2 linked regions of the Homo sapiens genome follow. The protein of the gene in region 2 interacts with the protein of the main gene of each other region in a pairwise test. Each region holds a gene or a part of one and is shown on either strand. Other genes may lie near its edges.

What was found. Proteins that work in one complex are often made in the same cells at the same time.
Region 1: the proteins of TMEM126A (region 2) and FBXL17 interact in a two-hybrid assay, tested with the Homo sapiens proteins (one large-scale study listed by BioGRID).

The regions. Positions count from the first base shown.
Region 1 is NC_000005.10:108,361,196-108,366,151, forward strand, and holds part of FBXL17 (F-box/LRR-repeat protein 17), read right to left. Parts: intron 3,801-4,956; coding exon 3,543-3,800; intron 1-3,542. UniProt on the Homo sapiens protein: Substrate-recognition component of the SCF(FBXL17) E3 ubiquitin ligase complex, a key component of a quality control pathway required to ensure functional dimerization of BTB domain-containing proteins (dimerization quality control, DQC).
Region 2 is NC_000011.10:85,653,342-85,657,835, forward strand, and holds the end of TMEM126A (transmembrane protein 126A), read left to right. Parts: intron 1-721; coding exon 722-915; intron 916-2,252; coding exon 2,253-2,367; intron 2,368-2,967; coding exon 2,968-3,160; 3' UTR 3,161-3,201; downstream 3,202-4,494. UniProt on the Homo sapiens protein: Protein required for the cotranslational protein quality control in the inner membrane of the mitochondria.

The DNA.
Region 1 (4,956 bases), on a different chromosome or scaffold from region 2:
GATTATAATGTGGTAACTTGGGAAATTAGATTCTCCCCACTTCCCTACGCTTCACTATTTTTGATTAATCAAGGCTTAGCTTGTGTTCAGCCAGTGTTTTGAAAGAGATTTCCTTGGATGCCAAAGCTTAAAAACAAAACTAAAACAAAAAACAAAAGCACTTATTCAAGTCTTTGCAGACTGGCTCTGTGCTGGGATATTTCTTTAAGACTTAGCCATACCATTCACAACTCTGCCTTGGCCTTTACTTCCTGCTTGTACTGGACCTAGCAAGCACACAGTGATAAAGTTTACAGTCTTCTTAGGTCGTTCCTGAACAAGTGTCCTGCCCTGGGCATGCATGCGGCTTTCAAAATTCCCTTCTATACACTGAGGCTGATTGTCCTAATTTCAAAACAAAAACAAAAATAAAAACAAACTCTCTCCCAGGCTCTTTCTCCTAGGTCAATTGTATGTCTCACCATAATCTATTGCCCAAAGAAGCTTGCTCAAAAGCAAGTTTCTTTCATTTGCCTTATACTGTGTTCAATCAATGCCCACTAATTTTCCTCCCTGACTGGGTTCTAAATTAGGTAAAACAGATATATAAGCACCTGCATCAGCCCTTCAAATAGCTCTCAGGTAGGTTGATCAGACAAATGAATAATTTGCAAATAAGGTCTGCTCTGTTCCCTCTGGAACCAGGGATCTGGGTCCCACACTGGGAACTCGGACTGCTATCTTCAAGACTGTTGCCAAGCTGGGGAATGGGTGAGGCACAGGCAAGTAAAAAACCCACAAAGCATTCTTTCCACCTTTCAGTTGCATTTTTCTTGTCTAGCATTCCTTTGGTTGCTATAAACCTTTGACGTTTCCAGAGTTCTGACAAAGTTGGATCTGATAGTTTAGGCTTGTTTTTCAATGTTTTTTTGGAGAGGCAGGCTTTTGGAGCTGCCTGCTCCAACATTTTGCTGATAGTACTCTAAGTAGTTATTTTTAAAGACCTAAAAATTGATAGCATAGCCAGATCAAAATTTACTAATGTAACATTTATTATTTTTGTACCATTTTATCTGAAAAAAGCCTACAGTGACTTATTTACAGAAATTTCTACTGAGCTCCATGAGCTGGAGTGTTAAACTGCTAAAACTGCATATAATTGAGTCACATAATATAGTAACAATGCATACAATTTCTTAGATATATTTTAATACTTTGACTACTATTATCGTTTGTTTACTGGCAAGTGCTAGATGATAACAAAATATTAGGAAAATTGAAACAGCCCTTTATTCTTAAATAGATTTTTCCTCTAGATACATGATTGTAGTTTTAAAAGATATATACAATAGGAACACATTCCACTGGTAAAATTATTTTGAGTGACTATTATGAAAATAAAAATATAAATATTTCAGGGTGGTATTTCACAAAGAGGATAGTATTCAACCAAAACCAGCCTGATTTTTTTAGGTGCTTCACCATGCTTAAGAAATATTGTTAAGCAGAATCCAATAGTTAAAACATTAGAGTCTACATCTATTAGAGCTCCAAATTGAAATGCTATAAGCAACTGTTTTTGTAAACAAACTGACAGAATTCAAAAGGCACACATATTTGGTATCCGCTAAAGTCAATCAAAATTATAGCAGTTATAAAGAAAATATATTCTAAAGAAATTATCAATAAAATTTACATATATCATTCTAAAACATTTCTCAATTTTTACTGACAGAAGAGGGAAAAAACAGAACCCTGCAACAACTTAATCTGTAGAATCAACAATTCAGTCAATTGCTAAATTAATGAGTTCAAGAAAAAATAACAGTCCCAGGCAAATCATCAATTATGGCTAGTTCCCTCTTAGGCTTTCGTAACTCTATTATACATTTTAACATAGCACTGTCAGTTTACTAAAACCATAATATAAATCCATATTCGGATTTATGAAATATCACTAGGTCATAAAATTAATTTAGTGAGTGGGTCAAGGCCAACATTTAACATAATAGTATAGAACAGAATAGATAATATCCATGTGCATTGCACATAAGGATGTGTATTGTTTCATAAAACTTAATTTCTATTTTATGTATATATGAAAGCCATTCTCTTTCTACTATACCCATAACACTATTCCATCAGAGGAAAGAGTCTATTATGAAATCAGACATACCCAGCTATAGCGGTCTTAAGTACAGAAAAATATTCTCTACACTGCAATGAGATCCTATGTAATTACTTAAGAAGAAAACTACCTAAGGGGAAAAAAATTTGTTTTGCTACTTTTATCAGAATATTACCTCACGTGTAACTAATTCATAATTCAGAAACCATAAATATCCGAAGGAAACATCTAAGTAACAGGCTCCAAAATACCTCACATTCTAGAGAAGATTTACATAATTACTCTCAAAGTTGTAAATATAAGATAAATTCATAATACTTGATTAGCATATTAAATGTTGCTCCTTCTCTACTTCAACCATGACTACGATCTTATTCTTTTTCACAAAAATTACTAGGTATACCCTAAGAAGTCTGCTAAACTACTACCTATTTGTGTTATATCAGAATTAAATATGAAATAGATTTAATCCAGTTCTTAATACATACACCTTTTTAAAATGTTTCATTGTGAAAAATAAATTGCTGAGAAATTTCCATCAAAGTAAATAAAATCATGCTATATACACAAAATATATATTTCTTCATAAAAGATTAATTTAATATGTTTAAGAACTTCATGAAATGCTTTGCTAGTAAATAATCCTGTACATAGCAGAAATGAATCAAGAAAAATATTAAAACAAATAAGACTTTTTGCACAATATGCCTTTGCAAACAAAATAGGCTCCCTTATAAGTTGGTAACATTCTTAATATATAAGTTGTACTGACACACCCAGTACTCACTATTTAGGATAGAGTCTTCCCAAATTTCTTTTCATACCAAGCTTTCAGTTAATTCATACATAAGGTTTAAATTTAAGGATATTCATCTGTTGAATAAATAATCCACTCCGAGCCAAGAAACCTTAAATGCCATTTCCAAAGGAAGTATAATAAACAGAAGGTATGCATAATACTATTTTTAACCCAGTTATTGTACCAAATAGAGGTAATTAGGCCTTTGTTCTAACTTTTATAATCTTCAATTTGGACGTCCATTTATCCCTTAAACATTCAGATATTTAAGCATGTATGTCATCTAGTATAATAAAAGGGGAATTAAAATGTTAATTTTTAAAACCTCATGCTGACCAAAACTACGCAGTTGCCCAAAGCAAAATGTGGTAAAAAATTTAAGTAACAAAAGCATAAATTTATAAAATGGCTGGTCACAGAAGTTCAGGCTCTCACTATAAAACAAAGCAGTTAATTTACTGATTATAACCATGGCACTCTAGTTAACTAATCTAAACAAATATTCATTAATAGGTAAAAAAGATGATTCACTTGAGTCTCTGGGAACTATTTTTAACGTAACCATTTAAAATGTTGTTGCTAGAAAACATTTTTAATTAATTCAAGTAAAATCACTTTATAAATGCTAAAATTTACCTGCTTGAGTCCTTCATCAGTGAGTTTGTCCTGGTTGCCTACATGCACTTTCTGAAGTAAAGGACAGTGAGAGGCAACCGCAATAATAGAGGTGTCAGAAAGCTGTTTACACCTGTAGGCTGTATACCTAAGAAGTCCAGGACATTTAAATGCTAAAACACATACGCCATTATCAGACATACTGCGACAATCAGAAATGTTGATTTCAATTATATTCTGACTTCTTGATGCAATTTTTTCCAACAATTCATCAGTGACCTGTAAGAGAAAAAGCAATAAATTTAAACTTTTGCTAAAAATAAAAACGTATTTTCCATTTTTTAATTAAATGTTCCACAATAAACAATATACTAATTAGATTATAGCATGAACGATATAATCAAAAGAGAAACCGTCTTAACATTGAAGCATAACAAGAATTTGGTATAATAATAATATTGTAATTGGTCTTTGTCCTGAATTCTTGCCACATATTTCCCAAAACTCTTGGAATTTCCTAAGCAATAGAATTTCTTTAGTTATTCATAACAAGCCCTTTAGACCATATCTGAGTTCATACTAATGAAGTGACTTAGAGTGGGGCGCCTAGATGGCTTCAGAATGGGGGCTGGTTACCAGAAAAACTAAACCCTTGATTAGAGGGTGATAACTTTCAACACTACTTACAGGAGAGGAAGGAAGCTGGAGATTGGGTTATAAAAACTCAAATGACAGAGATTCAGATGGTAAACAACATCAAAGTGCTGAGAAGGTGGTATATCCCATACCTTGCCTTCTGCATCTCTTCCAGTGGGCTGGCCCTGAGCTATATCTTTTATAATAAACCCATAAATATAGTAAGTATTTTCCAGAGTTCAGTGAATAGTTGTGGCTAATTATCAAAACTGAGAAAGAAATTAAGGGAACTCACAAGTTTATAATTGGTCAGTGAGAAGTTCAGGTGGCTTCTGGGACTTGCAACTGATATCTGAAGTGTGGGTAGTCTTGTGGGACTGAGCCCTTAAACTCAGTGATACCTCTGGGAGTTAGTTGAACTGAATTGTTGTACATCCAGTTAGTGTTAGAAAATTGTTAGTGTGGAAAAACTCCACATATTTGATGTCAGAAGTGGTATCAGAAAACACCAACAAAGGATATGTGTTCGTCTCATTAAAAGCCTAAAAATCTATCCTTAGTGGGAAAATTCAAATTCAGCAAAAACTCACCACAAATAAAACTATACTGAGATTTTCAATGTTTCACTTTCCATTTGTAACCCATGAAATAGTATACATCAGTAATAATGTTATATGAAAATTCACTTTTACACTTGATATCAGATGATACCACAGCGTGTAAGTTTTTAATCTTTTACTGTTTCTATGAGAAACAATACCTCGCATATAATTCATAGGTTGGAAAATACACCATTTTG
Region 2 (4,494 bases):
GGCTACTTTGGCTAGTTAAGAGTAATGAAAATCTTAAGACTGTATTGTAGATGGCAATGTAAGTGGTAAAAAAGCTAAGTCGTAGTCTGAAAAGTTTGGAGTCAGTATTTTCAATATTCAGCAATCATGTTAGGTATTACTTTTTCCCAAAACTAAAGAATGCATAGGACATAAGTTAAAAGTTCATACATAACCTGGCTTCAAATCCAGTTCTACCACTACCTGAAAACATCAGTTTATTTCTCATCAATGGGTTGTTATAAAGTACCTAGCATAGGGTATTGCTTAAATGTTAATACTCCCAATCCTGACACTAATGTTTCAGGGAAGAGTGAAAGAAATCACATTAACTCCACATTATTGAACATCTTCTGTGTCAGGCTGAATACATCTTTGTATCCATTGTCTTCTGGTTGTTTAAAGACTAGTGTAGAAGCCTGACATGTAAATCGGTGATTATATAAGATAGTACTGTCTTGTAATGTGTTGTGCTAGAGAGGTTAAGTATTAATTATTATGGGAGCTCAGGAGAGGCACCCACTGGCTGCTGGGAGAAGAGCAAAAACCTATATATAAAGCAATTTTTAAGATTTTGGTTCTATAAGGGATAGATGTCGTATCCAGTTAGTGTATTCCCAAAGTCCTATAACACATGTCAAGATCGGGAAAGCTCACACACACAATAATGCCAAAGAAAAGTTCTTTCTTCTCACCCTTTCAGGAATCTACTTGAAAATGGATCGGTTTATGTTGGATTAAATGCTGCTCTTTGTGGCCTCATAGCAAACAGTCTTTTTCGACGCATCTTGAATGTGACAAAGGCTCGCATAGCTGCTGGCTTACCAATGGCAGGGATACCTTTTCTTACAACAGACTTAACTTACAGATGTTTTGTAAGTTTTCCTTTGAATACAGGTAAATTCTACTTCACTATCACCAAAGAGTTTGCCTTAGTATATGTTATTTGCAGCTTTAGTCCATACTTATTAATATCAAGTAGCTGTATGCTGTAATGCAGTTAAGATTAAATCTTGCTAGCCTATATAATGTGGCAAATAATTCATATTAGTATGGTCTACCAACCAAGATGCACATACACAGCAGTTCTAAATACTTTTTCTTTAATTGAGATGGAGTTTTGCTCTTGTTGCCCAGGTTGGAGTGCCCTGGCGCAATCTTGGCTCACTGCAACCTCCACCTTCTGGGTTCAAGCAATTCTCCTGCCTCAGCCTCCTGAGTAGCTGGGATTACAGGTGCCCACCACCATGCCCGGCTAATTTTTTGTATTTTTAGTAGAGACAGGGTTTCACCATGTTGGCCAGGCTGGTCTCAAACTCCTGACCTCAGGTGATCCACCCGCCTTGTCTTCTCAAAGTGCTGGGATTACAGGCGTGAGCCACTGCACCCGGCAATACTTCCCTTTTTCTAACATATCTTTCTCACAGTGCTCATTTAGAGTAAGAAATATTTGGAAATCCATATATACATATATATGAAAATTATATATATGGAAATATTATATATATACAAATGTATATAAATAATATGTTGGCTACCTTAGATTTTTTATTTATATTTTATAGAGAAGTTCCTTAAAGGGGGAAAATATTTTTATGGGAATAACTCTTTATACAGTAAATCTCTTAAAGCACTAAATGCATATACATTTATCAAATACATGGAGATTTGATTTCCTTTTGAAAATCTACCATGTGTGCTGAATACTTTGAGTACAGTTAATCATAAAAAAAACTTTTGATTAATTATTTCAAATAAAAATATTACCATGGGTGCTAGGGAAGGCAGTCCATCTAAATTTTGTTAAGTGCTGCTCCAAATTTGTTTAAATTTGACGAGTATTTTGTTTTAATTCCCATGACCAGTGGAAACAATTTCTATGATCAAGGAAGACCTATCGCCCATTTAATTGAACAGACTGAGTGAAAATATTAGCCTAGGTCTGTTGATAAAAAACAAGGCAGAAAGCTAGCAGTAGCCCAAACCATGAGATTATTATATCTAAGTTGAGAACAAATTAGAGAACTTTTTTTCCTAAAATAGTTTTACCAATTATTCCTAGCTATTTTAAGTTACTCATAGATGTAATTATACCTTTTAACAGGCTTTGTACAATTACATTTGATATATTACCTGAAAAATACCTGTGATACACAAAAGAGGATCTTACATTCTTTAAATCATGTTTGCTTGACTATCATGACCTTCATTTCTATGACTAATTTATTTCCTAGGTGATTTGGATTGTGAAACCTGTACCATAACACGGAGTGGACTGACTGGTCTTGTTATTGGTGGTCTATACCCTGTTTTCTTGGCTATACCTGTAAATGGTGGTCTAGCAGCCAGGTAGGAAATAAAAAACTTTTTATAATATGTGATTACCTATAAAACTCACAACTTAAAGCAGCAAATATATTTTGTTTTTAAGGCATTTAGACCAAAGGCAATGTTACCCTCTTGATTAGAAGTTAGCAAGACCTGTTTTTTCTTATAATGAAATTCTACTTATCAAGAATTTCAAACAGTTATACTTGGTGTGTAGTTAGGCTATTAACCTTAATTTGTGTACTGAATACTAAACTAACTACAAAGCTGCAAACAGTATTATGCATGAAACTTCTATCATATAAACAATTATCTTGGATGAGTTTGAACACTTGCACTAAAGGAAAATTCCATCAGAAAATGTCTAGCTGTTATATTAGCCTTCTATTCTAAAATAATTCTGGCTATTCTCTGTTGAACTCTTGCATCAGCAATCTATGCTATAGCCTTGAAGCAAACTGGATAAAGAAACAAAAGTTTTTAGGATTAATAGACACTGAAGACCTTTACTTTAATATTCAGTTTTATCTTAAGACTTCTAGGACTAATATGTATCACAGATGGGTTTGCCATTTGATGCAACAATCTTTTCTATTGAACTATCTCAATGTTTTCTTACAGGTATCAATCAGCTCTGTTACCACACAAAGGGAACATCTTAAGTTACTGGATTAGAACTTCTAAGCCTGTCTTTAGAAAGATGTTATTTCCTATTTTGCTCCAGACTATGTTTTCAGCATACCTTGGGTCTGAACAATATAAACTACTTATAAAGGCCCTTCAGTTATCTGAACCTGGCAAAGAAATTCACTGATTTTAAACAAATATGTAAACAAAAATAAAATGGTAAAAACAGTTTATGTCTAATGTTATGTCTAATGTTATGCATAAACATAGACTTGTAATTTATCACGAGGTATAATTCTGGGACCTACAACAAAAGGCTACACAGGGCAACAAAAGGCTGAATCTAAGTAAAAGCTACCCACTTAAACAAGTTTAACTTCACGAGTTTGCCCAGTATTGTCTCTTCTACCTTGCTTGTTCTACCTTAGGCGTTGAGTTTGGTCTGTAACACAAGAGGAAAAAGTAACTATATAGTATTTTACACTGAAGACTTCATAATGACAAACAGGAATAAAAAATGAAAAAATATCTATCAATATACTATACCAAATGTTACTCACAATTCACTTTCTCAATTCAAATTATTAATCCATAGATTCTTAGAACTGATTTAACAACCTTCCTCAAATCAATCATCTTCTTGAGTCATTCAGGCTCAGCTTCAGCTATTATGATATAGACCTACCTACTTCGAGTCACCTTATTTAGAAAGCTGTATTTTTAGTTTAGGTAGTCTTTCAAGCTTCCATTTATTGTGGCATATTTAGAATCACAAAATTAACTAATCTCTCTGACCCTCAGTGAAATATCCTAGTTGGTTCATTTCCTAAGATCATTTAAATTTTTGATGTGCTTTCTTCTGTTCTCCTAACATTTCTCATCCTAGTTCTCTAAACCATTTTATTTTGTGACAGCAACTAAATCAGCATTCTCCAACAGAGCGTTCTGTGATGATGGAAATATTTTCTATCTGCACAGTCAATATGTTAGCCACTAGCCTATGTAGCGGCTGGGCACCTGAAATGTGGCAAGTGCAATTGAGTAACTGAATTTTTACTTTTAAACCATTTAAAATGTTTAGCCACGTGACTAATGCTTACAGTATTGGACAGCGTAGATCTAAACCAACACTTATGAAGCAAGCCAATCATCACAGAAAAGTACCAAACAAAATTTTAAGTGGCATCCAAGATTATTCATGAATCTCTTAATTATTACTTCCAAATAGTGACATATCTGTTAAGTCATCTTATGCTACTTAAAATTATAATTTAGAAAAGGCATCTTTGTGAGTGAAACTGGCCTTTAGCTTCTGTTTAAAGAAAAACATAAAGCTGTGCTGCCAAAGATGAAAAACTCATGTGAAATTAATAAAATACAATCTCAATTTTTCAGAAAGCAAAGATGATTTGTTCTTTCAACAGGCACATAAAATATATTATCTACCAAACTTATATAAAAAATGATCCCAGTTATGAGGCAAAAGAATCTATGTGCACAAGAGACTGAAAGGAAGCATGC